Linked DNA regions of Homo sapiens: region 2 is linked to region 1. Evidence: fine-mapped expression QTL. A gene starts in region 1. The other region holds a variant in brackets. All regions are shown on one strand. Distances are between the middles of the regions. Region 1 holds the start of OGG1 (8-oxoguanine DNA glycosylase). Region 2 overlaps TADA3 (transcriptional adaptor 3).

The links. PIP is the estimated chance that this variant, and not a neighbour inherited with it, causes the effect.
Region 2: its variant is fine-mapped to the expression of OGG1 in whole blood (INTERVAL, PIP 0.92).

Annotation. Positions count from the first base shown.
Region 1 is chr3:9,741,707-9,757,842 of GRCh38, reverse strand. OGG1 (8-oxoguanine DNA glycosylase) reads right to left here and starts at 7,891. Exons shown (of 7, transcript NM_002542.6): 1 at 7,420-7,891; 2 at 6,651-6,898; 3 at 5,894-6,073; 4 at 2,958-3,139; 5 at 1,222-1,372; 6 at 1,027-1,076; 7 at 436-782. The coding sequence starts at 7,556. The coding sequence ends at 693. BRPF1 (bromodomain and PHD finger containing 1) reads right to left here. Exons shown (of 14, transcript NM_001003694.2): 6 at 15,672-15,818; 7 at 14,590-14,899; 8 at 13,942-14,265; 9 at 13,335-13,619; 10 at 12,688-12,835; 11 at 12,134-12,270; 12 at 11,913-12,031; 13 at 11,389-11,543; 14 at 9,828-10,677. The coding sequence ends at 10,494. It overlaps CAMK1 (calcium/calmodulin dependent protein kinase I), which reads left to right. Exons shown (of 12, transcript NM_003656.5): 11 at 1-114; 12 at 222-496. The coding sequence ends at 304. RefSeq lists enhancers at 8,118-8,237, 8,268-8,317.
Region 2 is chr3:9,768,171-9,784,306 of GRCh38, reverse strand. TADA3 (transcriptional adaptor 3) reads left to right here. Exons shown (of 9, transcript NM_006354.5): 8 at 94-279; 9 at 3,758-4,340. The coding sequence ends at 3,950. CAMK1 (calcium/calmodulin dependent protein kinase I) reads left to right here and starts at 14,360. Exons shown (of 12, transcript NM_003656.5): 1 at 14,360-14,475. It also overlaps a transcript of OGG1 not described here. RefSeq lists silencers at 1,345-1,394, 14,410-14,589 and an enhancer at 5,868-6,162. The variant G/T (reference allele first, on the strand shown) is at 6,116.

The DNA of each region.
Region 1 (16,136 bases):
CCTTCAATGCCACGGCTGTGGTGCGGCACATGAGGAAACTGCAGCTGGGCACCAGCCAGGAGGGGCAGGGGCAGACGGCGAGCCATGGGGAGCTGCTGACACCAGTGGCTGGGGGTGAGGAGCGGGCTCTGCAGAAGGGCATGGGTGGTCCACAAAGGTGCACCCGGGCTGGAGTGGAGGGCCTGCCCCTGCGGCCACCTCTGTTCTGTCTTCCCATGCAGGGCCGGCAGCTGGCTGTTGCTGTCGAGACTGCTGCGTGGAGCCGGGCACAGAACTGTCCCCCACACTGCCCCACCAGCTCTAGGGCCCTGGACCTCGGGTCATGATCCTCTGCGTGGGAGGGCTTGGGGGCAGCCTGCTCCCCTTCCCTCCCTGAACCGGGAGTTTCTCTGCCCTGTCCCCTCCTCACCTGCTTCCCTACCACTCCTCACTGCATTTTCCATACAAATGTTTCTATTTTATTGTTCCTTCTTGTAATAAAGGGAAGATAAAACCATCCTTAGCGCTGTCTCCCTCAATATCCCCCACCCCATCTTGTTGTGCAAACTGACTGCTTGATTTGGGGGTGCCTGGCCTTTGAGGTAGTCACAGGGAGGCCCCTCCCCAACATGAGACTGGGTGGGGATGGGGAGAGAGAAGTGGGGAATGGAGGGGAAGGTGCTTGGGGAATTTCTTTGTCCAGGGTGCCCCATCTAGCCTTCCGGCCCTTTGGAACCCTTTCTGCGCTTTGCTGGTGGCTCCTGAGCATGGCGGGATTGGCGCAGGTCGGCACTGAACAGCACCTGTAGGAGGGTGGAGTCTGTGTGGGGAGGAGGGTACACTGGGGTCAGGGCTGGTGAGACTAGTGACAGTGTTGGGAGGTGGAAGAGTCCTTGGGGAACAGGGCCGAAGGCAATGAGAATCCACTGGGGTTGGGACAGGGGTGGCTGGAGAGTCCTTTAGGGCCACCTGGGGCGGTGGTGGAAGAGTCCACTGGGTCTGGGCTGGAGGAGAGGAAACCTAGGGAGGACACCTAGGTACACTCACCGCTTGGGCCCAGCCAGCATAAGGTCCCCACAGGCTCCGGAAAAAGTTTCCTAAATCAGAAGTGATGAGACTAAGTTATCTGACCCCTTCTGTGACCCATCAACAGAAGTAGGGTCTGAGGGAGAGGTGACTAAGAGAGAGAGAAGTTTCTACCATCCCAGCCCACTGCCAGCCCCTGCAGCCCACTTTCCTCACCCAGTTCCTTGTTGGTCTGGGGGCTCGGTCCCTTCGCCTGGGACGTGGTAGGGTGCCAGCTGTAGTCACGTTGGGCAATGTGCCACATATGGACATCCACGGGCACAGCCTGGGGCTTGTCTAGGGCCATCAGGCAGATGCAGTCAGCCACCTTTGACAGACACAGAATGAGCCCTTGTGGAAGAAGGGCAGCATGTGGCCAGCATCTTGCTTATAGCCCCAAAGCCGGCTGCTTTCTCCTTCACTCTGGGGTTACTGTTGTTCTATATTCTCAATCAACAGATACTATCTATGAATACACTTTTTTTTTGTTTGTTTTTGAGATGGAGTCTCGCTCTGTTGCCTAGGCTGGAGTGCACTGGTGCAATCCTGGCTCTCCCAGGTTCAAGCAATTCTCCTACCTCAGCCTCCCAAGTAGCTGGGATTACAGGCATGTGCCACCACGTGTGGCTAATTTTTGTGTTTTTAGTAGAGATGGGGTTTCACCATGTTGGCCAGCCTGGTCTCGAACTCCTGACCTCAAGTGATCTGTCCACCTTGGCCTCCCAAAGTGCTGGGATTACAGGCGTGAGCCACCATGCGCGGCCTATGAATACACTGAAATTGCTGTAATAAGAGGTGCTACTAGCTGAACACCTATGTGGGCCAGGTTATCATAACCTGGGAAGAAGGTATTACCACACCCACTTTACAGACAAGAAAACTGAGGCTTTGAAAGGTGAAGTGACCTGGCCAAAGTCACATGGCTGAGAATAGGCAGAACCAAGATTTAATGTTAGGCTGTAGTCCAAAGCCCATCAAAAAAAAATCTTTAAGCAAAAATTCATTTTTTAAACTACAGAGAAGTATAAAGAAAAAAAAAGGCTGGGTGCAGTGGCTCACGCCTGTAATCCCAGCACTTTGGGAGGCTGAGGCAGGTGGATCTCGAGGTCAGATTGAGACCATCCTGGCCCAACATGGTGAAACCCCATCTCTACTAAAAATACAAAAATTAGCTGGGTGTGGTGGCGCATGCCTGTAATCCCAGCTAATCTGGAGGCTGAGGCAGGAGAATAGCTTGAAGCCGGGAGGCGGAGGTTGCAGTGAGCCGAGATTGCACCACTGCACTCCAGCCTGGCAACAAAGCAAGACTCCACCTCAAAAAAAAAAAAAAAAAGACAAATGCCTAATTTCCAGTCATCTTATTGCCAGTTAACCCTATTGACATCAAGCAAAAAGTTTTGTCAGTACATGTCATTTTACGAAAGGAACAAAATGTGGCCGGGAGCAGTGGCTCATCCCTGTAATTCCAGCACTTTGGGAGGGCAAAGCAGGAACACTGCTTGAGGGCAAGAGTTTAAGACCAGCCTAGGCAACATTGTTAAGAGCCTATTTCTACCAAAACAAACAAACAAACAAAAAACCGAAAAGAAGAAATATCTTCCCATTTGTCTCCCCCAAGGAAACTATTATTTAGTTTCCTGCAATTTCCTTCTGGAAATTGCTGCATATATATAGCAGCATATATGTGTTGCATCTGAACAAATGGTCTTTCTAGAAATTCATTCAAAGGGCTATATCCTTTCTACTCTTTCTGCACTCTGCTTTTTTCTCTCATAAAACATCTACTTATATCCTTTCTCCTTCCTGCTCTGCCTCCGGAAGCCAAGCCTCCACCCAGCTCCCAGGCTTGGCTCATTTCCTGCTCTCCTCTTAGTGTCAGTAGAGAGGGCAGCTCCTACCCCCTGGGGCCTCACCTTGGTGCCCACTCCAGGCAGGATGCAGAGGGCCTTGTGGGCCTCCTCATATGAGGACTCTCGTAGCTGCTGCAGCCAGGCTAGCCCGCCCTGTTCTTCCAGGATGGCTCGGGCACTGGCACTCACGTAACGGGCACGATAGCCCAGGCCCAGCTTCCTGAGATGAGCCTCCACCTCTGGCCCTGCGGGGAGTGAGGAGGAGGGCAAGCATCAGGCATCTTCAAGTTCTTCCTGTCCTTAGGCTAGTAAGTGAGCTCTCTACCTCACAAGAGTGCTTTTCCTAAGTTCCCCTCCTACCTCCCCACCCTCTATGGGATAGTGGACACTTTTATGTGCAAGGGAAAGGGTTAGGCCTGGGTCCTGTCCCTCTACACATGTTTTCTGAGCACCTGCTATGAATTGGCCCCGGAGCCCAAGTCTAGTCCAGGGACTGAGGACTTGCTTCCCTTGAGGAGCTCCCCAACTGAGTTCCTTAACCTTTCCGAAAGAGTGTTCACACTCATGATCTAAAAAAATAACCACAATATAGCAACAGCTTCTATGATCAAGTGCTAGGCAACATGCTTCAGATATATTATCATGCTTACTTTTCCCAAGAACCCCACTGACAGTACTGCTGTTTTCCCATTTTACATGTGGAGAAAATGAGGGCTTAGAAGAGGTTAACTTACTTAAGAAAGGACATGGGGGAGATAAGATCTTGCACCTAGGTCTGGGACACCAAGACCTGTGCTTTTTCTTTTTTTGACACAGGGTCTTGCTCTGTCACCCAGGCTGGAATGCAGTGGCACAATCTCAGTTCACTACAGCCTTGACCTCCTAAGGCTCAAGCGATCCTCCCACCTCAGCCTCCTGAGTAGCTGAGACTACAGGCTTGTGTCACCATGCCTGGCTAATTTTGTTTATTTTTTGTAGAGATGAGGTCTCACTATGTTGCCCAGGCTGGTCTCAAACTCCTGGGCTCAAGCCATCCTCCCACCTTGGGCTCCCAAAAGTGCTGAAATTACCAGCATGAGCTACCCCACCTGGCTAACGCCGTGCTCTTAACCCATTACACTACACTGCCTCATGATTGCTTTATTCACTCCCAAAGCCCTTCTAGATAGAAACTGTTATTCCCATTCTACAAACAAGCTAAGAGAAGCCGGAAGAGGTGAATGACTTTCTTGAGGCCTTATGACTAACTAAGCCAGGAGCTGAGACTCAAGAACAGGTTTCTTTTTTTTTTTGTTGAGACAGAGTCTCACTCTGTCGCCCAGGCTGGAGTGCAGTGGCACGATCTCGGCTCACTGCAAGCTTCGCCTCCCGGGTTCACGCCATTCTCCTGCCTCAGCCTCCCAAGTAGCTGGGACTACAGGCGCCCACCACCACACCCGGCTAATTTTTTTTGTATTTTTAGTAGAGACGGGGTTTCACCGTATTAGGCAGGATGGTCTTGATCTCCTGACCTCGTGATCCACCCGCCTCGGCCTCCCAAAATGCTGGGATTACGGGTGTGAGCCACCACGCCCGGCCAGGTTTTTTTTTTTTTTTTGAGACGGAGTCTCGCCCTGTCGCCCTGTCGCCCAGGCTGGAGTGCAATGGCATGATCTCAGCTCACTGCAACCTCTGCTTCCCAGGTTCAAATGATTCTCCCGCCTCAGCCTCCTGAGTAGCTGGGATTACAGGTACCTGCCACCACGCCCAGCTAATTTTTAGCAGAGAGCGGGTTTCACCAGGTTGGCCAGTCTGGTCTCAAACTCCCGACCTCAGGTGATCCACCTGCCTCAGCCTCCCAAAGTGTTGGGATTACAGGTGTGAGCCACCGTGCCTGACCCAGGTTTCTTTTTGTTTGTTTTGAGATGGAGTCTCGCTCTGTAACCCAGGCTGGAGTGCTGTGGTCTGATCTTGGTTCACTGGAGCCTCCTGCTCCCGGGTTCAAGCAATTCTCCTGCCTCACCCTCCGGAGTAGCTGGGACAGGTGCCTGCCATCACGCCTGACTAATTTTCGTATTTTTAGTAGAGATGGGGTTTCACCATGTTGGCCAGGCTGGTCTTGAACTCCTGACCTCAGATGATCTGCCTGCCTCGACCTCCCAAAGTGTTGGGATTACAGGCGTGAGCCACCACGCCCGGCCAGGAATGGGTTTCTAAGCACCAAAAACATTCTCCTGTTTTGAGGCAGTCTGTCTCTTTGCTATGCAGTTCCCAAGCACTTGTCCTAGCTTGGTTCTCACATCTGCCAATCGATACACTTGCCTCTGTAAAACATTTGCCTTACAGGGCTACTGTGAAGAACACACGTGTTCTTAGATACAAAACTATCCCATTCACTACAATGATACCAGCTTGAATTTTTTTTTTTTTTTTTTTTTTTGAGACAGAGTCTCGCTCTGTTGCCCAGGCTGGAGACGGGGTTTCACTGTGTTAGCCAGGTGTGAGCCACTGCGCCTGGCTGATACCAGCTTGAATTTTACATATACTTCCTGTGTGCCAAACACTGTGCTAGGTGCAGTATGTATATTCCTTTCTTCAACCCTCATGACAACTCCAATAATAGCATAGGTAGGTGCTATTATTATTCTACTTCACAGATGAAGAAACTTTAGTACAGAGATGCTAAATAATGTGCCCAAGTGAGAGTTGGGGTTCAGAACCAGGCATGGGTCTGTCCCCAGAATGCATGCTCTTAACCCCAAACTACTGTACATTGTATACAGATATTTTTCTGATTAGGCATTGAACCCATTGGGCAAAAAGCACAGACCAGTGAGGTGCTGACATTTTAGGGATGCATAGGGAGGATGAGTAACTGGAGTTGATCAGACCAGGCAGGGCGGTTCTGGATAGGGGAAGTGTTTGGGAAGGCAGGAAGCCTTGAGAAGGTAACCAGGGGAGAAATGAACAGATCTTGAAAGCTGATGGAAGGCCTGGGGGCAGGGGACCCACCTACTCACCAGCCAGGGCCTGCAGGCTGGGGAAGCCATGGTAGGTGACATCATCAAGCTGGATGAGCCGAGGTCCAAAAGCCTGGCACAGCCGCTCCACCATGCCAGTGATGCGGGCGATGTTGTTGTTGGAGGAACAGATAAAAGAGAAAAGGCATTCGATGGGGTCTTGTCGCAGCAGTCGCACACCTGGAGACCAGAAATGCAGGGGGTAGGAGAGGTACCTGCTGTTGGGTGTGGCCTCTTCCCACCCACAGGTCAGATCCTAGGTACCAAAACTCCAGGAGGATCCCAGGAGAATGAGAGTCAGCACCGTTAGAGAAAGCAACACCAGACCTCTCATTCCTCATAGCATCTTGTGAGGGCTGAGTTACCATCCCATTCCACAGATAAAGAGGCCACAATGTAAGCTCCATGAGGACTGGCATTTGGGTCTGTTTTGTTCACTGGTGTATCCCCGGTCACACAGCAGATGCTTTGTATATATTTACAGAATGAATGAAATCACTTGCCCTAGGTCACACAACCAGGAATGGGCTCAAAATCCTTGTCACTTCACTATGGTGATTAGCAGGATAATAATAATGGTAATAATACTTACTATGTGCCTGGCATTATTCTAAGCACTTTACATGTATTAGTTCCTTAAATCCTCATAAAAGCCTATGAAGTAGATATAATCCCCATTTTACAGGTGGCAAAACTGAGTCATAGAGAAGTGACTTATGTCCAAGAACCCTAACCCCAGCCCAGGTCCTGTACTCACCTTGGAATTTCTGAGCCACCTCTTGGAAGTGGGAGTCCACGGAACCCCAGTGGTGATACAGTTGAGCCAGGGTAACATCTAGCTGGAAGTACTTGCGCACGGCCTCCAGCTCGTCTGGTGTGGGCCTGCTAGCCTGGCTCTTGTCTCCTCGGTACACAGTGCAGTGGAGCTGCTCCTCAGTCTGAGTCAGTGTCCATACTTGATCCGCTAGTACACCACTCCAGTGTGCAGGACTTTGCTCCCTCCACCTGAGCCCAAGGCACATGACAACCCTGGCACTCAATTTCCTTTCTTGCACCCTTTGGGGTCCCTCCTATCCTACAATAGCTCCATGTACGAAACTAATACAAGTAACAGTGCTATCTTCCAGTCTGAGCAACATGGCGAAACCTCACCTCTACAAAAAATACAAAAATTTAACCGGGCATGGCGCACACCTGTAGTCCCAGCTACTCGGGAGGCTGCGCCCGGGGGGTCGAGGCTGGAATGGGCCTCTCTGCATTCCTACCTGGGCAACAGAGCGAGACCCTGTCTCAAAAAAAGAAAAACAAGTGCTATTATCTTCTGCATCGGTTATACCGCTGGATCCTTACAATTATCACTGTACAGACATATTAAAGGTAACAGGTTGGCTACCCGTGCTTGTTTCCTCTTTTGTACCCCGGGTTTCTTCCATCATCCCCCAAATTCCTTTGTACCCCATGCCAGGCAGTGTTGAGGCGGCAGGAGCCAGTCCGAGGGGACAGGCTTCTCAGGCTCAGTCACTCACCGGAAAGATTGTCCAGAAGGCAGAACCAGGTCCAGGCGCAGCTCAGAGCGAGGGCACGGGATGGAGGCCCACAGGGCAGGAGTGGAGGCTAGAGTACGATGCCCCATGCGCCTGGGCAGAAGCGCGCGGGCAGGCATTTCCACAGCAGGCACCGCCCCGTAGTAGCCCCGCCTACCCAGAACCAGGCCTCGTCGACGCCCAAAGACCCCGCCCAGACAAGGACCACGACCCTTAAGGCCTCGCCCACACGGTGCTGTTTAACAACCTTCCCTGTTTCACTTAATTCCTCCACCTCCTGCATGCCTCGCCCTTTGCGGGTCATCAAAGCCCCGCTTCGTGCCCCAATTCTCCGGCTTTCCTGAGGTGTAGGTCCCGCCCCCTCCTTGCGACTTATCTTCTCCCGCCCCCAGAGCCTGTGGGCGCGCACAGCTGTGTTCTTCTGGGTTCTCCAGGGGCAGACCACAGCACCACCGGAAGTAGGGCTCAACCACCGCTCATTTCACCTAGAGGTAGCCAATCCGAGGAGGAGGTAGGAGGCGCCAATGAGAAATCAGGGTGGGCGGGCCGTTCTGAGGCGCTCGCGCGGTTGGCCGGCACTGGGCTCTCTGCCAGCTGCTCGCCTTTCCCCCTCCGGGATTGTCTGCACTCGGGGCGCTAACGAGTTCCATCTGGGCGCCCCGCGGTTCCTCAGGGCTGTCCGTCTTCAGAGCCACGTCCTTCCCCAGCCCGTTCTCCGAGAGCCGTTCTCCCCCGAGCCTTTGCAGTCTTAGGCGTTCGCCCTCCTTGGGCCGCCTCCCACGAACCCTGTCTTCACCAAGAACCGGAGCGAACACAGCTCCGGCCCCAGAGCCCTCGGGAAGTGTCTCCAGAGTATTATTCTCTTCTGCGCCCGCCCGCTAAGCTTGTCCCATTCAAGGCCTTTAGGCGTCCTCTGAGACCTCAGGACATCAGAGGCCTCTCCTCGGATTGTCGTCCCGCCGGCCGCCACAGCTGCTGCCTGCCGTCTTGGGCATTTCTTCCATACTCCATCTGCTCATGCTTTCCTCGGAATGGGACGTTTGCCGGGGGTTTGTCTGGGGCTGGGCCCAGAAGCCCATCAGGTTGAGTCCAAGTCCCAGTGTGTGGCCCTGAGGCAGCCTGCCTTCTAGTCGCCTGGAGTAGGAGGATGGATTATTTAATTTCTTCCCTTCTGGAGGATGGCATGAAAAAGCAGGGAGCTAGGAGACATGACCTTTATCTGGGCCATTCTCACCTTTTAGCATAGGGATTTGGGGTTGCTGTATCTTAACTATCAGGCTGCAAGTTTTTTTTCTTTGAGACGGAGTCTCACTCTGTCGCCTAGGCTGGAGTGTGATGGCGCGATCTCGGCTCACTGCAAGCTCCGCCTCCCGGGTTCAAGCGATTCTCCTGCCTCAGCCTCCCGAGTAGCTGGGACTACAGGTGCGCGCCACCACGCCCAGCTAATTTTTGTATTTTTAGTAGAGATGGGGTTTCACCATGTTGGCTAGCATGGTCTCGATCTCTTGACCTCGTGATCCAGCCGCCTCGGCCTCTTAAAGTGTTGGGATTACAGGCGTGAGCCACCGCACCCCGCCCAGACTGCAAATTCTTGAAGAGCAACATCTGCAGCGGATTGACCCTTGTGTCCCAGCCAGAGACCTAGCGGAGTGTACCGTCAGCATGGAATCAACATCAGACCAGTGCCATCATTGTCTCAGTGCCAGTCCTCAGTGGCTGCAAGGCCTGGGCCGCCCCTTCTTCCTGTGACTGTTCCTATCTGTAGGCATGCCATCCCACAGGCGCCTAGCACTTGGAAGGCATTCCTTCAATAAATGTCGGTGGAGTCTGGAAAGAAGGTGCTGAGGTTGGGGGTGAGCAAAGAGCAACCGTCTCCATCCCAGCTCTGTCTCCGGTTAAGCAGTGGGGAAGGTCTCAGCTGTATTGATGCTGAAACACTTGGGCCATGCCACTGGCAAAGGACTTGAGGCCTCTAAGGGCCAAGTAGGAATCGATAGTTGACTCTTCCCCTGGCAGTTCAGCATACTGGTTGAAGAGCCAGGTTTGCAAACAGACCTGGGTTCCAATTCTAGCTCTGCACCTTCCTAGTTGTAGGAACTTAGGCAAGATAATTTTTTGAAACTTCAGCATCTTTGTGGAGATAACCAGTCTATTATTAAACTACCCTATAGTTATTGCAAGGATTACGCAAAGCTGAATGTCTAAAGGTGCTCAACACAGGGCCTGCCACTCACTCCATGCATGGGCAACAGGGGCTCTCTTTGCTGTGTCTTATGAAATGTAGCATGCACAGCAGTCAGCAACCACTTGGGCCCAATTATGTATCATCCCTGGGGCACAGAACCTCCCTTTGTATCCCCTTTGCCCTGGCAGGGGGCAAGAACAAAGAATTCTAAATTGACAGTTTATTTTCTAAGAATCAATATATTTTCTTCCTTTGAAATAAATACAAACCAGTTTGAAAGGTGGGGGAATCTATGGGAAAGAGAAGGGAAATGGGGACAGCCCCCAGTCTTTTTTTTTTTTTTTTTTAGTACCAAATGACTCTGGCGCGACCCGGAAACGCAGTTACAAATGAGAATAATTTAAATTCTCCGATAATTACAGTATTTACAACAGCAGGGGAGGGAGTCACCTAGTGCCCCTCTTCCAGGCTGGACAGATGCCCACTCACCTCACGACCGGTAGGGGCCCCAGGCCTCTAGGCAGTTATGGATTCTCCTGGCATGAGCAGGTAGAGGTGGTGGGATGGCCTGTTTTACGCAGTGTCCTAACTTTGGCCCACCACCCCGCCCTACAATGCTGTGAGGTCTCTGGAGCTTTTTCTGACCTGTGGGCCCTCCCTCTCCTTGCGCTGAACTGCCATTGGCCCTTGGAGTGTTCTGTACAGTCCAGCTGCACTTAGGGCAGGAGGGACCTCCCCCACCCAGCTTCCCCTGAGACTGGCCCCAAGACCAGAAATGAGTCAGTGCAGAGGCCGGTGCCACTCCAGGACAGTGAGCAAAGGGGAGGAGAGAAGTCACAGGGCACTATAGGTTGGGCTGTGTTGAGCAGTATCAATCACTATCGCTGGTCTCACTGCTCTGCTCGCCTTGCACCTTGCTGCGGTGCTGCAGAGCCCTGTGGTAGGCGATCTGTACTGACTTGCGGATGTTGGACTTGCGGCCCTCCAGCATCTTCTCCTTGTCTAGGTCCTGGTTCACACCCAGAGGAACCAGCTTGGTCCTGGGCAGCCACTGCCTATAGGATAAGGTGAAGATCAAATAAATCATCTCAGGGAGAACAAGGACCAGCCTTCCTCCTCTATTCACTCAAACACACCACCCAAGCACCCACTCTGGCCAGACTCTGTGATGGTCCCTGCCCTCAAAGGACTGTTCATGGTCTAGAGATGAAAGAGCCCAGTCAACAGTTATACTGTGTGGTGGCGGCGGGAGGGTAATCACAGGGTATTTATGGGTACAAAAAGGAGGCACCCTGACCTCACCAGAAATAGCTACCCTGTGCCATAGGCTCTAGGCAGACTTTACTGACATTGAATATCCTCTGCAGACAATTAACAAAAAGACTACATGTGTAAATGTGACAGAACAGGGATTCAGAGCCTGAATGTTTATGCCTGCTTTATCCTCATTTTGTCACTGTGGAGGCAGAGGTGGGAAAACTAAGTCTAGAAGCCATCTGAGTCTGGGTGGGAGCCACCTCTATATTTGTCATAAGTCTCTGATGGTCCTTTGGTTTCTAGCTATAGCTGTGTCCACTAGTGCCCACTCAGCCTCTCAGACACATGGTCGACACAACCCTTTCGCTCAAAAAACTGTTCTAAGTCCCTCCCCCACTGACTTGTGATAGCCCAGTCTGCCTGTTGCTGGAGTTTCCTGGCAGTCTGCCCCCATACCACACAGGGCTGCATCTGTGGCTGTGAGTCACACCAAATGCTCCCCTCCTTACCAGGTTCGTTTGTTGTCAAAGAAGAGGACGAGGTAGAGATGCTCTCGGGCTTCCTGGGTCATCTGCTCCCCAAGTTTCAGCACCTCCAGTGGGGGCACAGGGATGGGAACCCCATGGTGGAACATACCTTCTCGGGGCATCTTTGGATCAATGATCTGAGGATATAATAAGAGCCCAGTTTGGTTCAGTCCATGTCCTCCCAAGGCTTTTCCTCCTCAAGAACTTAGAGAGTATGTCTGAAGTGGGGACAGAGAGGGTATCATGCTACTAGAACTGCAATGCTGACCCTCAGCTTCTTTCCATGCTAAATTATTTCAGAGCCCAAGGAGCAAAGAGAAGCAAAAGGGAGAGATGGAGAAACTGAGTGGGAGCCTCTAAGTGGTACTCAAGCTGTATCTGCCCACCAGTCTACCTTACCAAGAAACTCTGTGCCCCACAGCTCAGCAGGGAGTAGGAAAAGTCTGCTAACTGTGAATCTGTATTCTGGGATTGGAAAGCAAGAAGTGTAACAGAAGCAAGCATACCAGAGCTGGGTATGATGGATAGCCTCGGCATTTGGCCCACACGAGGTCCAGAGCATCCAGCGGGGAGTCCTCATCCTCTGACAGCCAGCCAGCTCCCCGGCCCAGACTCTTCCTTACCACTTCACAGGAATGGGGGAGAGGGGGTGGATCAGCAGCTGGGGGGCTGGCGAGACCCTGACACTGGGTCCCCAGCATCCCTGGCCTTGGGCAAGGGAACTTACTGCTGTGGCCCACGCCGCGGCCAGTGCCCACGGAGTAGGCCTCATTCTCAGTGCCTGAGGTATCCTCACTGCTGTCCTCTGGGAAAGTGCCCCGAGAGAAGGAGGGTTTGCCCCGGCCTTGTTTTGAGGGCGTTGTGCTGTGGACAAGACAATGGGAGCTCAGCTCAAAGGAGGGGAAGAATGGGGAACAGCATGGTATGTGCCCTCAGCTCTTAAAGCCCGCAGGGTCTGAGACTTTTGGAAAGCAGAGGCTATATGAGGAATTTCAAATTCAAACACCCACAGGGGCTAGGCTGATGACCTAACAGAGGTGGGTTAGCCTGAGCAGTGGCGGCAGGAGTGCATACTCTAATCATCACCTTAATCCAGGATGGTTCTCTCTGTTCTATTAATGGTAACACTGATTTATTTATTTAGCAGAGAACCTTGAGTTTGAGCCATCTTAATCTAGACTGAGATGGCTGCCACCCCACTTCCAACAGGGAAACCTACACAGGCCCAAGAGCCCTGGAAGGGCATCCCCTGAGGTTGGCCTCGATCTGGAGGGCTGGTACCTGGTCCGGTCTGAAGCAGCGCTGCTACTGCTACTGCTGCTGGACTCAGAGTCTGAGCTGCTCCGGGGAAGGCTGCAGTCATTACGGTATACCAAGAAACTCTTCTTCACTGGTTGGTTTCCACCGCTGAAGCCATTGGCTGGTAAGTCTTGGTTGAAGGGAAGGGGAGGAGGGAAGGAACCGGTCAGGAAGATGTAGATCAGAGATGACATGGAGGTAAGAGGGACTTGGAGCTTGGGTTCCCCTTCTGTGCTGGAAAATTCCTCCAACCTTGGCCAGCAGAGCTAGCTCTGGGCAGTGTCTACCACAGTTGGCCACAGCCCTGCTCCACCCCTTGCTTCCCTCGGCAGTTACTGGCTTTAGGACACAAATGGCTTAAAGGGCAGGAGATCCCCAAGGAAGGTGAGAAGAGAAAAGGTAAAGTGATACAATGGAGGCAGGGGGCCCTGGATGGGACTTTAGCTGGGTCGTAGTGTCTCTGGGCCTCAGTTTTCCCAACTGTAAGATGAGTGAGTGGAGTTAAAGGATTCCTAAGGACCCTTCTAGCTCGCTCTTTTATGGGCAAATAAAGGGGTAACTGGGAGTATGCTGGGAAGAATGGCAGCTTTGCTCACTCTCTTGGGGGGCTGGGTGATGGTAAGGCTCACCCATTGGGGGGTCTTCTGTGGACTTATCACTGTCGCTGTCTGAGCTCGAACTGGGCCGGGGGCTCCTACCCCGCTTGCGCTGACGCAGGGAACTCATGATGGGGAGCTGGGGGGGCCCCACAGGACTGCCTCCGTGGCTGGGGGTCATCTGGCTCTCCCGGTTTTTGGGGGGCCGGCCCGGCCTCTTGGGCGGTCCAGCTGTCTTCGGGTTCTTTTTGGAGAACAGAACTGAGGTTCTCCTGCCCACCTCATGTGCGGGGGTTGAGGACATGTTGGGACCCAGGCCTGGAGCAGAGAAAGAAAGAAGGAGAGTTGGTGAGGGGCCTGATTTGAGAAGGGTAGATATCCAGGGTCATGCCCTGGGCATATAGGACCATTACTCCAGCTAACGTTGGGGAGATCATTTTAGGGGCTTGGAATTTGGAAGATTAACTCTTATACAAATAGCCAGAGAGGCAGCTAAGAGGCCCCTGATTGGGGAATGAGGGAGAAAGTACAGCTAGCTGTGTAGGAGGGACCTCTGCCTGGGGAATGGCAGGGGTTGAGTGTGTGCTGCAGAGCCAAAGTCTGACTTGCTTTGGGGTCCACCTTGCCATGGGATTCAGACCTTTGCTTGTCTCCTGGCTGCTGCTCTCCTCTGCCGCACTATCTGTCTGCCCATCCTTGTCACAGGCTGCCGGGTGGGGTGTCAGACTACCCCGGCTCGAGGGGCCATGCCGCTCAGGGCCATCACGTCCCGTCTCTCGCTGATGGGCAAGCTTCCGCCGCAGTGCCGTCATCTCTTTCTTGATCATCTTTGCACGCCGTGAGCGGCCCACACTCTGCTTGCTGGCATTCACTTCGTCCAGCCGCTCCAGAAGCAGCTTTAGCTGTTCTTCCACTGGCAGGTGCTTCTGGTTCTCCAGCAAGACCAGCCGCTCTTCCTCGGCTGCTAGGGGTAGGGTTGGAGGGGAAAGGTCAGACTCAGGGCAGCCCTCAGGGCCCCTTGAACCTGGGCAGGCAGCAAGAAACCCACTCATCCCCCCTGGGCTTCTCACCAGGAACAGCTGTAAAATAGCAGCACCAAGATGTGGAATGGCGGGCACTGCTATCCATTCACCCAGTCTGGCTTCTTGGGGAGCATTCCTGGGGATAGCTTGCCACTGCTCAGCCTAGCTGCTTTCTGCCTACACTGCCTGCTCCCAGGAGGGGACTTTTGGAAAGCTGTCCATCCCCGGCATTGGCCTCTTATATGTGTGTGTGATATATCACCCACCATCTTCAGTGTGGTGTGTGGCCTCATCTCCAGCCAGGCTGTGGGGGATATGCATGCCCGTCTCAAAGTCAATGCCCATTTTTTCTGCCTGGCGCCGGGCCTGGCGGAGCACAGCACCACCCTGCTCACGAAGCCGCACTGCTGCCCGGTAGAAGATGGTGTCCTTGGCGTTATACTTGAGGCAGTTGCTGACGATGAGGTTGAAGTCCTCCTCAAAATCATCAAAATTCAGGTAGCGGTAAGCCTCCAAGTTCTGCTTCATGGTGAAAAAGTCCATGGGCTTTTTGATGTGGTCTAGGTAGTCAGGTACCTGGAAGGGCAGGGCAGGTTTGTTTTAAGTGGAGATATCCTCCTTATTGCCCCGAACCCTGCTCCTAACAAGCCCCCCTGAAACACATCCAGCAACCTCCTCCCACCACAGTTAGAGGCAGGCATATAGCACAGGGGAAAGGAAAGCTGGATTCTGGTCCTGACTTTACCAGTCACAAGCTGTGTGACTTTGGCAAGTCTCTTAACCTCTCTGGGCCTACTTTTCCTCTCCTGGAAAATGATGAAAGTAGAGCCAAATATACTTTCTAGACTATATGAGGCTTTAGTAAGAAAATGGCTTGGGGACTCCTCTGAAAATAAACACCACCTTGCATTCCTACAGCTCTTTTTACTTAACAGTAACTTATAAGGAGGCTGCTGCCTCAGGCCTCTCATTTTATACCTTTTAGAGAGAAGAGTCTGCCAGTCAGGACCTAGGGCTTCAGAGCTGGTTCTTTAGGTGCTGAGCCTTCTAAAGTCTCCGTTCTAGGGTTCAGCACCCCGAAAGTGTCTTCCTGCCCTGGGATTATTCATTTGGCAGACTCAGTCCCTGCCTCTGGGGAAGGAGTGCAGACTGCCTCCCATTCTGGGCCCTTGGGGTGTGACAGGGACAAGACAGAGTCCAGGTGATACATGTGGCTCCAGTTCATCCTGCCCCAGAGCCACCAGCCCCTCTCTTCAAGGTCCCCATCTAGTCCTGGCCCAGACCTGCAGCAGGGGTCCAACTGGGAGAGGAACAGAGAGAAGGTGGAGTGAGGGGAAGGGATTCTTACTTCGTCCAATTCGGTTACCTCAGACAGAGGGACCGGCTCGCTGAAGATGTTGCCTGTGTCCTTCTCTTGGAGCTGCTCCAAGGTTTTGCGAAGGAGGATGAGGAAAGGAGTCAGCTGCATCTCCATGGCAATCTGCTGAACCTTGATCTAACATAGAAAAAGGCCTGATCAGCCAGGCCTCGGCCAGTTCAGTGGCAAAGAGGTCTGAGGATATGGTCCCAGCTGGCCTGGGAACCCGCCTTCTTTCCCACCCTCACAGCTGGGTGTACTCATACAGGTCTACCTTCTATGAGGCTCCACCCAGGGAAACTTGCACCAACAATTCTGGCTTCCCCCTTTCTTGAACTACCAGCACCAGCTACCTATGTCACATAACTGAGGATTCTGTTCATACGCTCCTGTGACATTCTGCTTCCAGCAGAACTAAAAGCACACCGAGCACCAGGAGACCTGACTCCAGCGTCA
Region 2 (16,136 bases), 26 kb before region 1:
GTTTTCACTGACCTTGGGAAGCCCTGGGAACCTCCAAGGTGGGCCCTTCTCCAAGCTGGCTCTTGAGTCTGACGGGCCTGCCTCCCGCTGCAGTGTGCCGCATACTAAGTCCCTGGAGAGCCGCATCAAGGAGGAGCTAATTGCCCAGGGCCTTTTGGAGTCTGAGGACCGCCCCGCAGAGGACTCCGAGGATGAGGTCCTTGCTGAGCTTCGCAAACGGCAGGCTGAGCTGAAGGCACTTAGTGCCCACAACCGCACCAAGAAGCACGACCTGCTGAGGTGAGCGTTAGCAGGATGCACAGTCCCGGGGGTGGCCTTGGAGGCTGTGGCCACGGCTAGTCACCTTTCAGGGGTTTTACAACAGGCTTTCCAATCCTGGCTGGCCTCTAAATCACCTGGAGAGCCTCGAAAAAAACAGCAGTGGCCAGTCCACCGGGTATGTCCCAAACAAATTCTGATTCCACAGAGTGGGGCTCAGGCATCTGTGACTGACCGATTGATTTGATTTGTTTTTGTTTTGTTTTTTTTTGAGAGGGAGTCTCGCACTGTCACCCAGGCTGGAGTGCAGTGGCATGATCTCGGCTCACTGCAAGCTCCGCCTCCCAGGTTCATGCCATTCTCCTGCCTCAGCCTCCTGAGTAGCTGATACTACAGGCACCCACCACCACGCCCAGCTAATTTTTTTGTATTTTTAGTAGAGACGGGGTTTCACCGTGTTAGCCAGGATGGTCTCGATCTCCTGACCTCGTGATCCACCCGCCTCGGCCTCCCAAAGTGCCGGGATTACAGGCGTGAGCCACTGCGCCTGGCCTAGTTTGGTTTTTTAATTATGGTAAAGGCATAATATAAAATGTATCTCCATGGGAGGCTGAGGCAGGAGAATCAGTTGAACCTGGGAGGCGGAGGTTGCAGTGAGCTGAGACTGCACCATTGCATTCCAGCCTGGGCAACAAGAGTGAAACTGCATCTCAAAAAAAAAAAGAAAAAAAATTTACGCTTCTTAACCATTTTTAAGTGTACAGTTTAGTAGTGTTACCCATATTCACATTGTTGTGTGATTTATTTTTTGTCTTTTCATGCTTCTTTTCTTTTTATCCCCAAAGTTTTGTTATTAAAAATTTGATACACACAGAAAATCTGAAAGAATCATACAATAAACATCAGTATATTCTCCACCTAGACTAATTAACTGTTAACATTTTGTTGGAGATCTGTGATTTTTATTTGCTCATCACAAGAAATTGACCAGTGTTTTAGGACATGTTCTTTTGGGAATCCATCACAGTGCCTGCCATTCATTTGATGTCAACTCCCATCCATCTTGTTCTGCATTGATCACGAGGGTATAGGTGACATCTTGAGGAAGACTGTGGAATAGCTACCCTTTAGGTAAAGAGATAGGGAAGCAACCCGAACAAGTCTCTTTGCTTCTCACAGACAAGTGCTGTGTCTTAACTTCATAGAGCCCTGACAGGACAGGGCACATTCATTCATTTGGCCTTTTTTTTTTTTTTTTGAGACGGTGTCTCACTCTGTTGCCCAGGCTGGAGTGCAGTGCCATGATCTCGGCTCACTGCAACCTCCGCCTCCCGGGTTCAGGCAGTTCTCCTGCCTCAGCCTCCTGAGTAGTTGGGATTACAGGCATGCACTACCATGCCAGGCTAATCATTTGGCCATTCTTACTGTCTCTTAGATATTGTGCTGGGGGCCAGCAAGAGAGGCAGAGCAAGGGACTTGCAGATTACTAGCAGATGATCAGTAAAGATAAGTGCCATTAAAAGGAGAGGTAGTTGCTGACAAGCTGCCAGGGTATTTAAGGATAAGAGTGACTAATGTATGCTGAGGGCCTACTGTGTGTCAGGGGCTTTATGTACACTCTCTCAAGTGTCTTGACAACAACCCAGGAGGGAGGAGCTATTTTCGTTGTTTACCAGATGAGGAAATAAAGGCCCAGTGAAGCGAAATGCTCTGCTGAAGGTCACACAGTCAATAAACAGCAAGCTGAGACTTGAACCTGTGGTTGAATCAAAGCCTCTTTCTATAATAGTTTGTTTTCTCTGAAAGGTGAGAAGAAGAAAACACAGATGGAAGAGGCACTGAGGGAAGCAGAGGGAGAGAGAGGAAGAGAGAGAAAAGCAGGCATGTGCAGTTACAGAAGTAGTGGGCCCTAGCTGGGCCTGGTGGCTCATGCCTGTAATCCCAGCACTTTGGGAGACTGAGGTGGGAGGCTTGTTTGAGCTCAGGAGTTCGAAACTAGCCTGGGCAATGTAGTCAGACCCCCTTCTCTACTAAAAATTTTTAAAAATCAGCTAGGCATGGTGGCACATGCCTATAGTCCTACTCAGGAGGCTGATGTGGGAGGATTGCTTGATCCTGGGAGGTAGAGGCTGCAGTGAGCTTGATCAGGCCACTGTACTCCAGCCTGGGTGACAGAGTGAGACCTGTCTCAAAAAAAAAAAAAAAAAAAAAAAAAGAAGTAATGGGCAATGAAGAAATGGCTTGCAGCTCTCAGGAAACCAGAGCACAGCCCTTACCCTGCTGCAGAGCAGCTGCAAGGCCTTAAGCAGCCCCTGACCTGAGCATCTCCTTCCCCTTCTGGAAAACTGGCAGGCTGGACTCAATCACTAAGTGACCTTCCAGCTCCACCATCGATGAAATGTATAAATCAGACCCTGTTCAGAGAGATTGATCTGGTGTCTCACCCACCTCCTGTCAGCCTCAGGCTGCCTAGACCTTAGGGGGCTCTGGAATGCAGATGCCGACGTAAGCAGGCCTTCTGCTGGCACCGGAACACCTGAAACAACAGTGTTTAAAAACAAGAGTTTGGCCCCAGCCTGCTCCAGATCTCCCCCTCACTAACTGTGGGATCCTGGGATCATCTTTGAGCCTCATTTTCCTCACGGGTAACATATGAATAATAGTACATATTTTGCAGGGTTGTTAGGATTAACTGAAAGACAGAGAGAGAGAGTGGGTGTGCCTGTGTGTGTGTGTTTGTGTGTGTGTATGTATATATATATATATTTTAGAGACAGGGTCTTACTCTGTTGCCGAGGTTGGTCTCAACTCCTGGCTTCAAGTGATCTTCCTGCCTCCATCTCCCAAAGCGCTGGGATTACAGGCATGAGCTACTTTGCCCAGCCTACTGTGTATATTTTTAAGACCTTTTTTTTTTTGAAGACACAGTCACGCTCTGTTGCCCAGACTGGAGTGTAGTGGCATGATCATAGTTCACTGTAACCTTGAACTCCTGGCCTCAAGCAATCCTCAGCTCCCTTGGAGTTGGGACTACAGGTGTGCACTACCACACCCAGCTAATTTTTTAAATTTTTTGTAGAGACAGTCTCACTATGTTGCTCAGACTGGTCTCGAACTCCTGGGCTCAAGTGATCCTTCTGCCTTGGGCTCCCAAAGTGCTGGGACTGCAGATGTGAACCCCCATGTGCAGCCAAGACTTTATTCTTCTAGAGCAGTTTTAAGTTCACAACAAAATTGAGAGAAAGGTACAGAGAATTCCCGTATCTCCCTGTCCCCACATGTGCACAGCCTCCCCCGTGATCAACATGAGTTAATATTTTTCAGGAGCTTAAGATAGTGCCATGTAAGTGTAGGTCAGTAACTGCTTTTTGGTCACGACTGTATGACACAATCCACAGGCATGCCAGCCTGGGCTGGTGGGTAGGCTCGGTCTTGAAGAGGGAGGGGTTGTTCTCTGGAGGTGGGCTGACCCTGGCACCTGGCTGGCTGGTCCCCACAGGCTGGCAAAGGAGGAGGTGAGCCGGCAGGAGCTGAGGCAGCGGGTGCGCATGGCTGACAACGAGGTCATGGACGCCTTTCGCAAGATCATGGCTGCCCGGCAGAAGAAGCGGACTCCCACCAAGAAAGAAAAGGACCAGGCCTGGAAGACTCTGAAGGAGCGTGAGAGCATCCTGAAGCTGCTGGATGGGTAGCCCTCACCCCTGCCTCAGGCTGATTATCTGGCCTAGGGGAGGGGAAGGGAGGCCCACTTCCTTCTTTGGGCACAGGAAACATTGGCCTGTGGCTGTCCCTCAAATGGCGGCAGTCTCTAGAGGGCCGTGGCCCTTCCCCTGAGGTCTTTTGGCCTAGCTCTGTACAACCAGGACACAGGAAGCCCTGCTGGGCTAGCCTGAGGCCTAGTCTCTGCTTGGTCCCCGAGATGGGGTTGGAGGGGACTTCGTTTCTGGGTCTTCCTCTTCCCCTCTTTACCATCCCCCACTCCCTAATCCCCTACCCCTGTCTCCCCTTCAAGGACTTCTCCCTTGTGGTTTTGTAAAGTGCAAACTTAAGAATAAAGTGACTGCTGTGGTTTTTCAAAAAAAGCATCCAGTCTTTGAATGTCTGTTACAGTGGGGAGGAAGGAACCAGTGTGGGTGGTAAGGTTTGTGGGGGGTATGCTTGGTGGCTCTCAGCCCATGGCCACTAACCCATGGCATTCAGTCAGGGAGAACTTTCTGAGTACCTCTTTCTGAGGATACTTGTGGCTGCACGTAACAATGCCCCCCCAGCTCAAAGTGGATTCACAGTAAGGAAATGTGTTGGCTGCAGGATGGGCAGTCCTGGGACAGAGTGGCCTTCACGGTTAGCCAATCTAGCAATTCTTCAGGGTCATCAAGGGTCCAGGTTTCTTTTTTTTTTAATTTAAGTTCTAGGGTACATGTGTACAACGTGCAGGTTTGTTACATATGTATACATGTGCCATGTTGGTGTGCTGCACCCATTAACTCGTCATTTACATTAGGTATATCTCCTAATGCTTTCCCTCCCCCCTCCCCCAAGGGTCCAGGTTTCTTAGGGGTCACCACACTGCCCTCCACAGTGTCGACCTCTGCCTAAGGTGAGTCCTTCTCTGGCTGTAGTGTGGCAGTGGAGCAGTTGGGGCCAGATGCTTCCTCATTTACATCCAGCACAGGAGGGAGCCGGAGCCAGCGGGCTTCCATGGCCCATCTACAGAAGCAAGAAGCCTTTTCCCAGATACCATCATGTTTCAGTGGCCCAAACTCAGTCTCACATGCCCATTCCTCAGTCACTGTGGCAAAGGAGACTGTAATGGCTTTATGCCAGTCAGAGTGGAGTTTGCTACTCCATCAAGGTGGTGGAGAGAGAGTAAAACCCAACAAGATCTGAGTAGGAAACAGGGAAGTGAGTGCTAGATAGACCACCGACAACGTCTCTTCCACAGCTGGGGCAGGAAGCTTGGCCTAAGGGACACAGATGAATAAATATGCTCTGGTACCTGCCTCAAGTTGTTCCCAGACTGGTCTGAGAGAATCAGGGAATAATTTGCAATTTACTGTGGGAAGGTTGAGGTCCACGCAGGAGAGAAGGGAGGGTAAGATTCCCTAAGGAAGTGACCTATGAACTGAGCCATAAAGAAGGAGGGCGAACATGGCCAACATTCTCGTATACCCAGCACCTCTCTGTTGGAGAAATGTTCCTTCCCCATCACACATGGTTCTTGTCCAACTGCCAAACTAGGGTGCACACATGACCCCAGCTTGGCCAGTCAAGTGCCAATCCCTCTAGCCACAATGATTAGTCCCAGAAGCAGGCATGTAACCCAAGCTGGGTCACTCGAGGCCCTCCATAAGATTGCTCTGTGGATGCTGAGAGGAGAGTTCCACTTCTTGTTGGACCATAAGCCATAGACTATAAACTCAGTCTACCCCAGTGACCTGCTCTCCTCCCATGGGGAAAAACCTGCTTGAGAATAAAGCCAGCTCAGAAAAGCAGAGCCAGGAGATGGAGAAGTGCTGCATCCAGCTATTCTTGAAGCCACCGGATCCTCCCTTAGACTTCCCACATATATCAGCCCACAAAGGCTTCTTTTGGCTTAAACTAGTTTGCTTTAGAGTTTTGTGATTTGTAACTAAAAAAGGCCTATTACAAGTGAATTTTGGCAAAAAGAAAGATGAAGTAGGATCCTGAGAGAGAGGACAGCATGAGGCCCTGCCTCCCACTAGGTGCTGGGCCAAGCTGCTGCAATTTCTCAGTGACTCATTGTCCCCAGGTTGCTCACAGCCTTCTCAGAGAGAAAAGACACCCACACATGCAATGATGAGAAACCAACTCTAATCATAATGATAATGCAATGAAG[G/T]GCTCAGTAAATGTTAGTATGCACCAGGCATTGTTCTGAACTCATTCAACTACCTAATATTATGGGGTAGGTATCAGCTACCCCATAATAACATCCCATTTACAGATGAGGAAACTGAGGCTTAGGAGGTTACATACCTTGCTTTGTCAAGCAATTGAGTGGTTGAGCCAACATTCAAACTCAGGCCATTTGGCTTACAGAGAGAGCCTCTTCATTACAACTCACTGGGGCCCCACTCCCATTACAGTGTATGTGAATGGTACTCCCTATACTTGGGCAGTGCCCAACCTGTGCAGCCATATATGGCAGCTCTGCTTGAAGACCCCCCTCCTCTTAACCACTCACTTCCATGTTCACTGGGCCACACCATAAGTATGGTGGGCGTTGTTGGTAGAGAGTTCCAAGAACAGAGACAGTTTTGTGGAGGAGGTGGGATGAGAGCTGACATCCCAAAATTGGATGGAATTGTGAAAGAAGGAAGACAGATATAAATAGAAAGAAGAACCCTAGAAGACCGACTGGGCCTGGTTCACCAGAGAAGAAACTTAACTTTCAAGGATCAGTCATGAGCACTCTAGCTGTTCTCTGTTGCATACCTACTATCTGCCTGGCACTGTGCCAGGCCCTTTACCCACCCCTCCTATCTGATGCTTACCATGCACCTCCAAGGAGAGTAATATTCCAGCCTGCAGATGACACAGAGACTCAAAGAGATGCTGTGCCTTGCTGAGGCCATGCAGCCTTGATGCAGGAATAGTTGCTGCCCCCAGGTAGCACCATCCCTGGCAGAGTTCTTACAATCATATCAGTGTCTGCTGGAGCCAAAAGATGCCTCCTTTATGAGTGTGGAGGAAGCTGGGTTGTCATGAGGAGGGCGGATTAGTTCCAGTACCTCAAGTCTCCAAATTTAATTCAAAACAATTCTGATTCCTTATCACTAGTTTGGAGGCAAAGCCTTTTGTGTCTTGGCCCTAGAAAGCATCTGTCTTGCACATCATGGTCTCCCCAGAGTTCCAAATGCCTTACAGCTGACTTTCAGCAACACCAGGGTGAGTGAGAACGGGGAGGGTGAGCTCTGACCCACAGTGGGTCCCCAGCCCCTGTCTGCTCCTGAGTACTCTGGGCACCAAGTGCTCTGGGTCCCAGTTGGCTCCTGCTGAAAAGAAAGTGATGGCAGGAGCTTTGTGGAAATGTGGTCGGGGAGTAAATTTATTTCTTGGCCTGGGGCTCAGGACTCAATGGAAAGAACCAAGTCCAGTGGACTGTAACTCACTCGTTTAGGTATCAATAAACTCCCCATTTCTTCTCTTCACCTACCTAATTACCCTATTCACTTATTCACTCCATCCACACACCTCCACTTCTTCATTATACTTTTGTTCCCTCATTCAGTGACCCTGTCACCATGGCTGAGAGCTATGGAGGTGACTAAGGCTCCAGAAATGGGGACACACTAGACAGACAATCAAAACACTAGGCCGCAAGAGCAATAAGAAGACTGCAGGCCGGGCACGGTGGCTCACGCCTGTAATCCCAGCACTTTGGGAGGCCGAGGCGGGCGGATCACGAGGTCAGGAGATCGAGACTATCCTGGCTAACATGGTGAAACCCCTTCGCTACTAAAAATACAACAAATTAGCCGGGCGTGGTGGCGGGCACCTGTAGTCCCAGCTACTCAGGAGGCTGAGGCAGGAGCATGGCGTGAACCCGGGAGGCGGAGCTTGCAGTGAGCCGAGATCGCGCCACTGCACTCCAGCCTGGGTAACAGAGCGAGACTTCATCTCAAAAAAAAAAAAAAAAAAAGAAAAGAAAAAAGAAAAAAGAAGACTGTGCAAAGTTGGCAGGGACCTGGGGCAGAGAAAGACTTAACAACAGCTTAGAGGGTCAGGAAAGGCTTCAGGGAGGATGTGGAAAGAAAATTGCTGGGCAGAAGATAACATTCCAGACAAAAGGAGCAAGGCACAGAGGTGTGAACAGCTGGCCTGCTTAGAGAGAAGTAAGAACTGCAGTGTGACTGGAGCCCTGGGTGTGTGGAGGGGAAAGGAAAGGATAAGAGATGAAGCTAGAAAGTAGGTTGAAGACCAGGCTGGGCAAGGGTTTGAATGGCAGATTAAGGAGCATGGACTTTATTCTCTAGACAATGGTGCTCCAAGTGTGGTCCCTGGACTGCCAGCAACAGCATCACTTAGGAAATTGATAAAAATGCAAATTCTCAGGCCACAGACCTACTGAATCAACAGCTCTGGGTGTATAGTCAGGCGCCGTGGCTCACACCTGTAATCCCAGCACTTTGGGAGGCCAAGGAAGGCGGATCATCTGAGGTCAGGAGTTCAAGACCAGCCTGGCCAATATGGTGAAACCCTGTCTCTACTAAAAATACAAAACGTAGCCAGGCATGGTGGCACGCACCTGTAATCCCAGCTACTTGGGAGGCTGAGGCAGGAGAATTGCTTGAACCTGGAAGGTGGAGGTTACAGTGAGCAGAGATCACACCACTGCACTCAAGCCTGGGCGACAGAGTGAGACTGTCTCAAAAAAAAAAAAAAACCTCTGGGTATGGGGCATAGCCTTACATTATATATAACATGCCTTCTAGGTGATTCCTGGTGCATATTAAAGTTTGAGAATCACATTCTGAAGTAACAGGGAGCCACTGGTGGTTTGTGAGCAGAAAGCACTCTCAGAGCAGCATAGAGGCTGGACTAATGAGAGGGAGTGAGGGTGAAGTTGGTGCAAAGAAATACAAGTGAGATGTGGAATGTGGCAGACTGGTAGATGTCCTCCAAAATCTGTTTCAGTAATATCTCATGTGGAAACTGGAATCATACATTGAAAATACTCTCCATACATTTGATAGCAAATGGAAATTAAGTTTCACATGGTGATTTCTTATCAAAACCTTTAATCAAAAGCTCAGGGCATATTGTTTTTTGTTTTTTTGGGGTTTTTTTTTGAGACAGGGTCTTGCTCTGTTGCCCAGGCTGGAGTGCAGTGGCATAATCTAAATCACTGCAACCTCAGCCTCCCAGGTTCAAGTGATTCTCCTGCCTCAACCTCCCGAGTAGCTGGGGTTACAGGCGTGTGCCACCACGCCCAGCTAATTTTTGTATTTTTAGTAGAGACAGGGTCTCACCATGTTGGTGAGAACTCCTGGGCTCAAGTGATCCTCCTGCCTCGGCCTCCCAAAGTGCTGGGATTATAGGCATGAGCCCAGCCAAAAAAAAAAAAAAAATTACTCAAACATCTTGGAGCATATAGCCTTGTCCTAATTTAGGATTACTTCTCTGAAATTGATTGCCAGAAGAGGAGTCCCTGAATCAAAAGGCCTCGACATTATTTAAGCCTTTGATGCATATTGCCAAATTGCTTTCCAAAGGATCTTTAGCAAATCATTTTCCCACCAGAATGTAGGACTACTCATTCCTCACATCAACATCAGCCTTCAGTGTTACCAGCTTTTTAAACTTCAAATTTGAAAGGCTGCAAATGACCTTCTATTTTGTACTTTTTTGTATCACTAGTGAGATACAAAATGTCCTGTGTTTACTGTGTTTTATCTGTATCCTTTGACCATTTATTAGGTTCTTACTGTTTGTTATCAATCCTGTGTGCTGTTTATATAATAAATATATTAAGCCATTGTCTACAAAACATTTCCCCAGTCTGAAGTTTGCCTTTCATTTTTGGCTACCATTTCGGAGTAGAGTAGGGTTTTCACTTTTTGAAAAAAAGTTAAAAAAAAGTAACAAAAGTTAAAGTTTTGTTTTTTTTTTTTTTTTTTTTGAGACAGAGTCTGGCTCTGTCATTCTGGCTGGAGTGCAATGGTGCAATCTCAGCTCAATGCAGTCTCCGCCTACCAGGTTCAAGTGATTCTCCTGCATCAGCCTCCCGAGTAGCTGGGACTACAGGCATGCGCCACCACACCTGGCTAATTTTTGTATTTTTAGTAGAGATGGGGTTTCACTATGTTGCCCAGGCTGGTCTTGAACTCCTGACCTCAGGTGATCCTTCTGCCTTGGCCTCCCAAAGTGCTGGGATTCAGGAGTGAGTCACCACGCCCAGCCAAAGAATTTTAAAAAATAAACCTGTCCATCTTTTCCTTGTTATTTCTTCCATTTTCTCTAATCTTAGTTAACTACTCACTCTTTCAATAGCTTCTTTTCTGTCAGGTTCAAGAATTCATGGAGGCCAGCCATACTGGCTCACGCCTATAATCCCGGCACTCTGGGAGACCCAAGCAGGAGGATCACTTGATTCCAGAGTTCCAGAGAAGTCTGGGCAACAGAGGGAGTAGAGACCCGATATCTACAAAAAATAAAAAACTAAAAAAAATTAGCCAGGTATGGTGGTACACACCTGCAGCCCCAGCTACTCCGGAGGCTGAGGTGGGATGATCACTCCAGCCTGGGAAGTCAAGGCTGCAGTGAGCCATGATGGCGCCGCTGCACCACAGCCTGGGTGACAGAGTGAGGCCCTGTCTCAAAAAAATAATAAATAAATAAATAAATAAAAGAATTGATGGAGATGTCTGCACTGTTTAGCCATTCAAAAAAAAAAAAAAGAAGAAAAGATCATCCCCCTTTTCCCTGAGAACATTTGACTTTCCTTGACTCACCTTTTTTTAAATTATTATTCATTTATTTATTTTTGAGACGGAGTCTCGCTCTGTCGCCCAGGCTGGAGTGCAGTGGCGCGTGGTCTCTGCTCACTGCAAGCTCTGCCTCCCGGGTCCACGCCATTCTCCTGCCTCAGCCTCCTGATTAGCTGGGACTACAGGCGCCCGCCACCACGCCTGGCTAATTTTTTGTATCTTTAGTAGAAATACAAAAGATAACAGGGTTTCACCATGTTAGCCAGGATGGTCTCGATCTCCTGACCTCATGATCCACCCGCCTCAGCCTCCCAAGGTGCTGGAATTATAGGCGTTAGCCACCGCACCCAGCCACTTTTTTTTTTTTTTTTTGAGATGTAGTCTTGCCGTGTCACCCAGGCTGGAGTACAATGGTGCAATCTCAGCTCACTGCAACTTCCATCTCCTGGGTTCAAGCAATTCTCCTGCCTCAGCGTCCCAAGTGGCTGGGGATACAGGTGCATGCCACCACACCCAGCTAATTTTTGTATTTTTAGTAGAGACAGGGTTTCACCACGTTGGCCAGGCTGGTCTTAAACTCCTGACCTCAGATGATCTGCCCACCTTGGCCTCCCCACGCCTGGCCCTTCACTCACTTTTTGATTAGTACTTTGAAATGTGCTCATCGGGACTGGGGGCTGCAGAAGGATGTATATGTATACGCATCCAAAAAATCTGGAAGAATTGTACTAAAAATGTGAACACTGGTTGTCTCTGGTTGGTGGGGGCCCGGCTGAGAGTGTTGTGTTATTCTTGCCTCCCTCGCACCCCTAATTCCTTTGGACAAGATACCTCTTCCATTCCTTATGGCTGCCCATTACAGTACACTTGCTCAATATAGCACCCTAATTCTCCTGGCAACAGTTTTGGAGGCCAAGGGGTGAACATGTCACTCTATCACTCAAGCAGAGCCAGAGTCCTTCCCTGAGAATGAGATAGGAAATTGGGAGGATGCTTTCCTTCCACTGTGTTTAATTGGAAAGCTGGGGCTGCCTCACTCCATGTTTCCTGCCAACTAGAAGTTCACTCTGGAGAGAAAAAGAGGCCAACGTGTGAAGAAAAATCAAGACAAGGAGAGAGGAGGGAAGACAGAGAAAGCAAATCCTATGAGTACTACATCTCCAGTTCCAGTCTCCAAGCCCCTAATCTCTGGTGTTTTTCCTGCAATCTTGTGCCAGCTATTGTGAACTATAGATTCCTCTTGGATGAAGCTGGTTTAGGTTGGCATTCTGTCACTTGGGAAGCGAAAGAATCTCATCAGTTAGTCTGTGTGTGTTTTCAATACATTATGGAATTTTCCTGCAATGACCATGTATCACTTGTTCAATAGAAATACTAAGAAAGTAAAGATAATGTGTTTGTTAAAGAAAAGAAAACACGAGGCCTCTCAGAAATGCTCAAAAGCAGGAAAAATGTAAAGCACACCATAGAAGCTGTACAAGTCAGCTGGGCGCGGTAGCTCATGCCTGTAATTCCAGCACTTTGGGAGGCTGAGGCAGGTGGATCACCTGAGGTCAGGAGTTCGAGACCAGCCTGACCAACATGGTGAAACCCCCATCTCTACTAAAAATACAAAAATTAGTTGGGCGTGTTGGTTCACGCCTGTAGTCCCAGATACTTGGGAGGCTGAGGCAGGAGAATTGCTTGAACCCAGGAGGCGGAGGTTGCAGTGAGGCGAGATGGCACCATTGCACTCCAGCCTGGGCAACAGAGGGAGACTGTCTCAAAAAAAAAAAAAAAAAAAAAAAAAAGAAGTTGTACAAGTCCTCGAAAGGACAGAGGTCATCTTATCACCCAGGGGGTGTTGTCATCAAGATGAACAGGAATTTGTGGTAAAAGAACCCCTAGCTCAGTGGGTGTGCTTGGTGGGTATAGGGGAGAGTGGGGGCTCAGCCCTGAGCAGGAAATGTATTTTTCCATGAACTAAGGAGTCTGAGATACTGAGATTTGGAAGATGGATCCCTTAACCCCTCATCCCTGGCCAAATCAAGTCCTCTCTCTGAGTCTCAGTTTACACTGAGTCTAGCTCTCATGTTTTGAATAGTGTTCTAGGCACTTCATATCATTATATCATAGAATTCTCAGAACTCTGAGTCAATCTTCAATATTCCCATGTTCCCGAGTAAGAAACTGAGGTTCGGAGAGGTAAAGCATGACCAGGATCAGTTAGACTCCAAAGCCTTTCCAGGAACCTCAGCTATCTTCCTCTCTCATCTGTAAGATGGGCATAATAAATTGGCCAGGTGCAGTGGCTCATGCCTGTAATTCCAGAACCTTGGGAAGCTGATTGGGGAGGATTGCTTGAGCCCAGGAGTTTGAGACCAGCCTGGGCAATATAGTGAGATCCCCATCTCTACAAAAAATAAAAAAGCCAGGTGTGGTGGCACGCACCTGTAGTCCCATCTACATGGGAGGCTGAGGTAGGAAGATGACTTGAGCCCAGGAGTTTGAGGCTGCAGTGGGCCGTGATCATGCCATTGCACTCCAGCCTGGGTGACAGAGCAAGACCCTGTCTTAAAAAAAAAAGAAAAAGAAAAAAAGAAGAAGAGAAAGAAAGAAAAAAGAAAGAAAGAAAGAGAAAAAGGAAATGAGCTGGGCATAAGCACTGTTCTCTCCCCATCACCAGCTGGAACATGCAAGAATTCAGGAGTAGGGAGTGGCACTTGGAGGCCCTTGGAGGTGGAGTGGGGTCCCAAGCAACGTGCCTCCTCCGGCTGCCCCCAGTTCAGCCCCATCCCCAATTCCTGCGAGTTGCTCCCCCCGCCCCCTCTTTCCACTCGGCACCAAATTTCTTCCCAAGGAAGGCCTTGAGCAAACCGACCTTTGGCCTCTTGCCTGCCGTCCTAGTTGCAGGCTCTCTCCCCTAACCTGGACCCCAGCCATCAAACTCTGGAGCCCCGCCAGTCACGTGACACCTCGGTCCTTTTTGGCCTGTTTCCTTCAGGATCCCGATTTAACTTCCTCCTCCCCAATTCCCTCTGCCCCCAATACCTCTAGGCACCACCACCCGCTCTGAGGAGCAAGTGTCTGGGGCTGAAGCCTCAGCTCCATCTTGCAGAGGAACCGGGGCCTCAGTCTTCCCACCTGTCAAGTGGGGCCCACACCCTGCGACCACCTCCACTCTCTTCATTGCCTAGTCTTGCCCGGTCCTTCCCCACTCCCTCACTCCCCCATCCCCCACCAGACTCCCGTGCAGTTCCAGGGCCTGTTTCCCTTCAGGGCACGGAGAAGGGAGACAGAGCCCTAAGGGAGGTCGCAGAACTGGTCTGAAAGAAAATCCACCAGGCCACAGGGTGAGTTTGGCCGGCCTCTAGCTTCAGACAGACGGGGTTCGAATCCTGCTTTGCTTCCGACCACCCGCTGATTTGAAAATCATCTCTCCGGGCCTCAGTTGTCCCCTCTGTGAAATGGACCCCGCTTAAGACCAAGGGCGGGAAGCGTCCAGCAGGAGATCTCTGACCAGAAGCAGGGAGATGGCCTCCACCCGTGCCCCTTCCCCAGCCTTGGAGCGGTGCCTCGCCTCCCAATCCCGGGTCCCTCCGCCGCAGGCTCCACCTCCACTGACATCAGAGCCGCAGGCGGGCGGAGAGAGCCGCCGAGCCGAGCCGAGCCCCAGCTCCAGCAAGAGCGCGGGCGGGTGGCCCAGGCACGCAGCGGTGAGGACCGCGGCCACAGCTCGGCGCCAACCACCGCGGGCCTCCCAGCCAGCCCCGCGGCGGGGCAGCCGCAGGTACAGCCGGGCCCCCCATCCCTGCACCCCTGGGCGCTGCGTGGGGGCGGTGGGAGCCCCTAGCCTCTGGGTATCCTTTCCCAAGGAGTGGCCACTGGGCACTCTCCCGGGCGGGCTGGACCCTGAGGGGCAGGGCTGGGCCTTTCTCCACCTCTGTCCCAGGCCCAGCAGGTGCCAGGCGGGCCTATGGGACACTGAGTGGGTAATAGAGAAGGGGGCCTGTGTGAGCGCCTTCAGCTGGGCCTGACTGGAAGGGCGTGGGCATTTGGAGGTATCCATGGGGTGGGGGGGCTTGCGGAGTGTACTGTCTTAGGACAGGCGTGTGGGTCAGACATGGGTGGAGGATCTGGGAATCTGTGTGTTTTTTGTTCCAGAGGGGTGTCCACGTGTTTTGTGTGCTGGTATTTGGCTCTCAGGGTCTTAAGTCAGAGTTAGGAGGGGGTGTACAATTGTGTACTGAGGATGTTTGGAGTTAGGTGTGTAAGGACTTGGGGTTTGGTTTGGAATACAGGAGCTTCCAGGGGATGGGGTAGAGGAGCTGGAGGGTGTAGGGTACGTCTGGTATATGAGGGTGTGTGTGTGTGTGTCTGGGTGTCATCTTGTGTGGGTGCGGGTGGATGTGTGTTTTGGGGTGTAAGAGGGAGCTGGGTGAGGGATGTTTGGATGGACAGGCAGGTGTTCGGGTGCAGGGCTGTCTGGGGCACTGTGTGGTGTGGACATGTGTGCTGATGTCTGGGAGTACATGTATGATCAGGTGTCACGGGATGTGGATACAAGGCGTACTGGATCTGGGAGGCAGGTGTTTGAGTTCAGGGCTGTGGAGGGGGCTTGGTGTGGCATGTCTGCTACAGGGATGTGTGTGGATCTGTGAGGGTTGTATTTGGTAGGCCTCCATGTGGGTTTCAGACTCTGCCTCTAGAGCTTACACTCGAGTCTCCTTTCCTAGAAGATTCTGCCCCTGGATGGGTGGGCAGGGTCCCCTGGGAAAAAGGTCCTGTTCCAGGAGTGGAATCTCACACCAGAGGCCCTAGTCAGGGCACCTTCTCCTCATTCTCCCTTAGAGAAAAAGAGAGAAGGAAAGTGCTCTCCCTGAGGTCACAAAGCATGCTGGGCTCTGTTTTGGCCTCATCTGTGGATGGGTTGGGAGGCTGTGTTCTCTGAATGGGGCCCATTCTGGCTTCATATTGGAAGTACCAGCCAAGGCCATTCGATGGCCTTTGCCCTCAGCAAGCTTAGCTGGGGGCCCCAGGCCAGGTGTCATTAGGGCCTCTGGAGCCAGCCTCTACCTAACTCCAACCTCAGTCTCCCCATTCTTCATCTGATAAATGGGAGAGAACTCCCACCCTCTCCTGCTGGATGAGACAGACCTCAGCAGAGGAAGGGCCAGGCTGGATAGGGTTAGATGGGGCCAGGAAGGGACAGAGTGAGCAGGACCATTTCTCATGCTCCCGGGACCCAGATGGGGAGTCAGGAGGGAGAGGTCTGGGGAGCTCCAGCTGTGGCTGTTGTTGCTGTGGTAACAGTGCAGAAAGAGCTATTTAAAAATGTGGCTGAGATGTTGCTGGAAGCCCAGGCTGCTGGAAACCTGATTTCGGAGAGGCCGGGGAGTCGGGGGAAGGAGGAGGGAAAGGAGACACCCCAGCAATCCCCAGGGTGGGGCG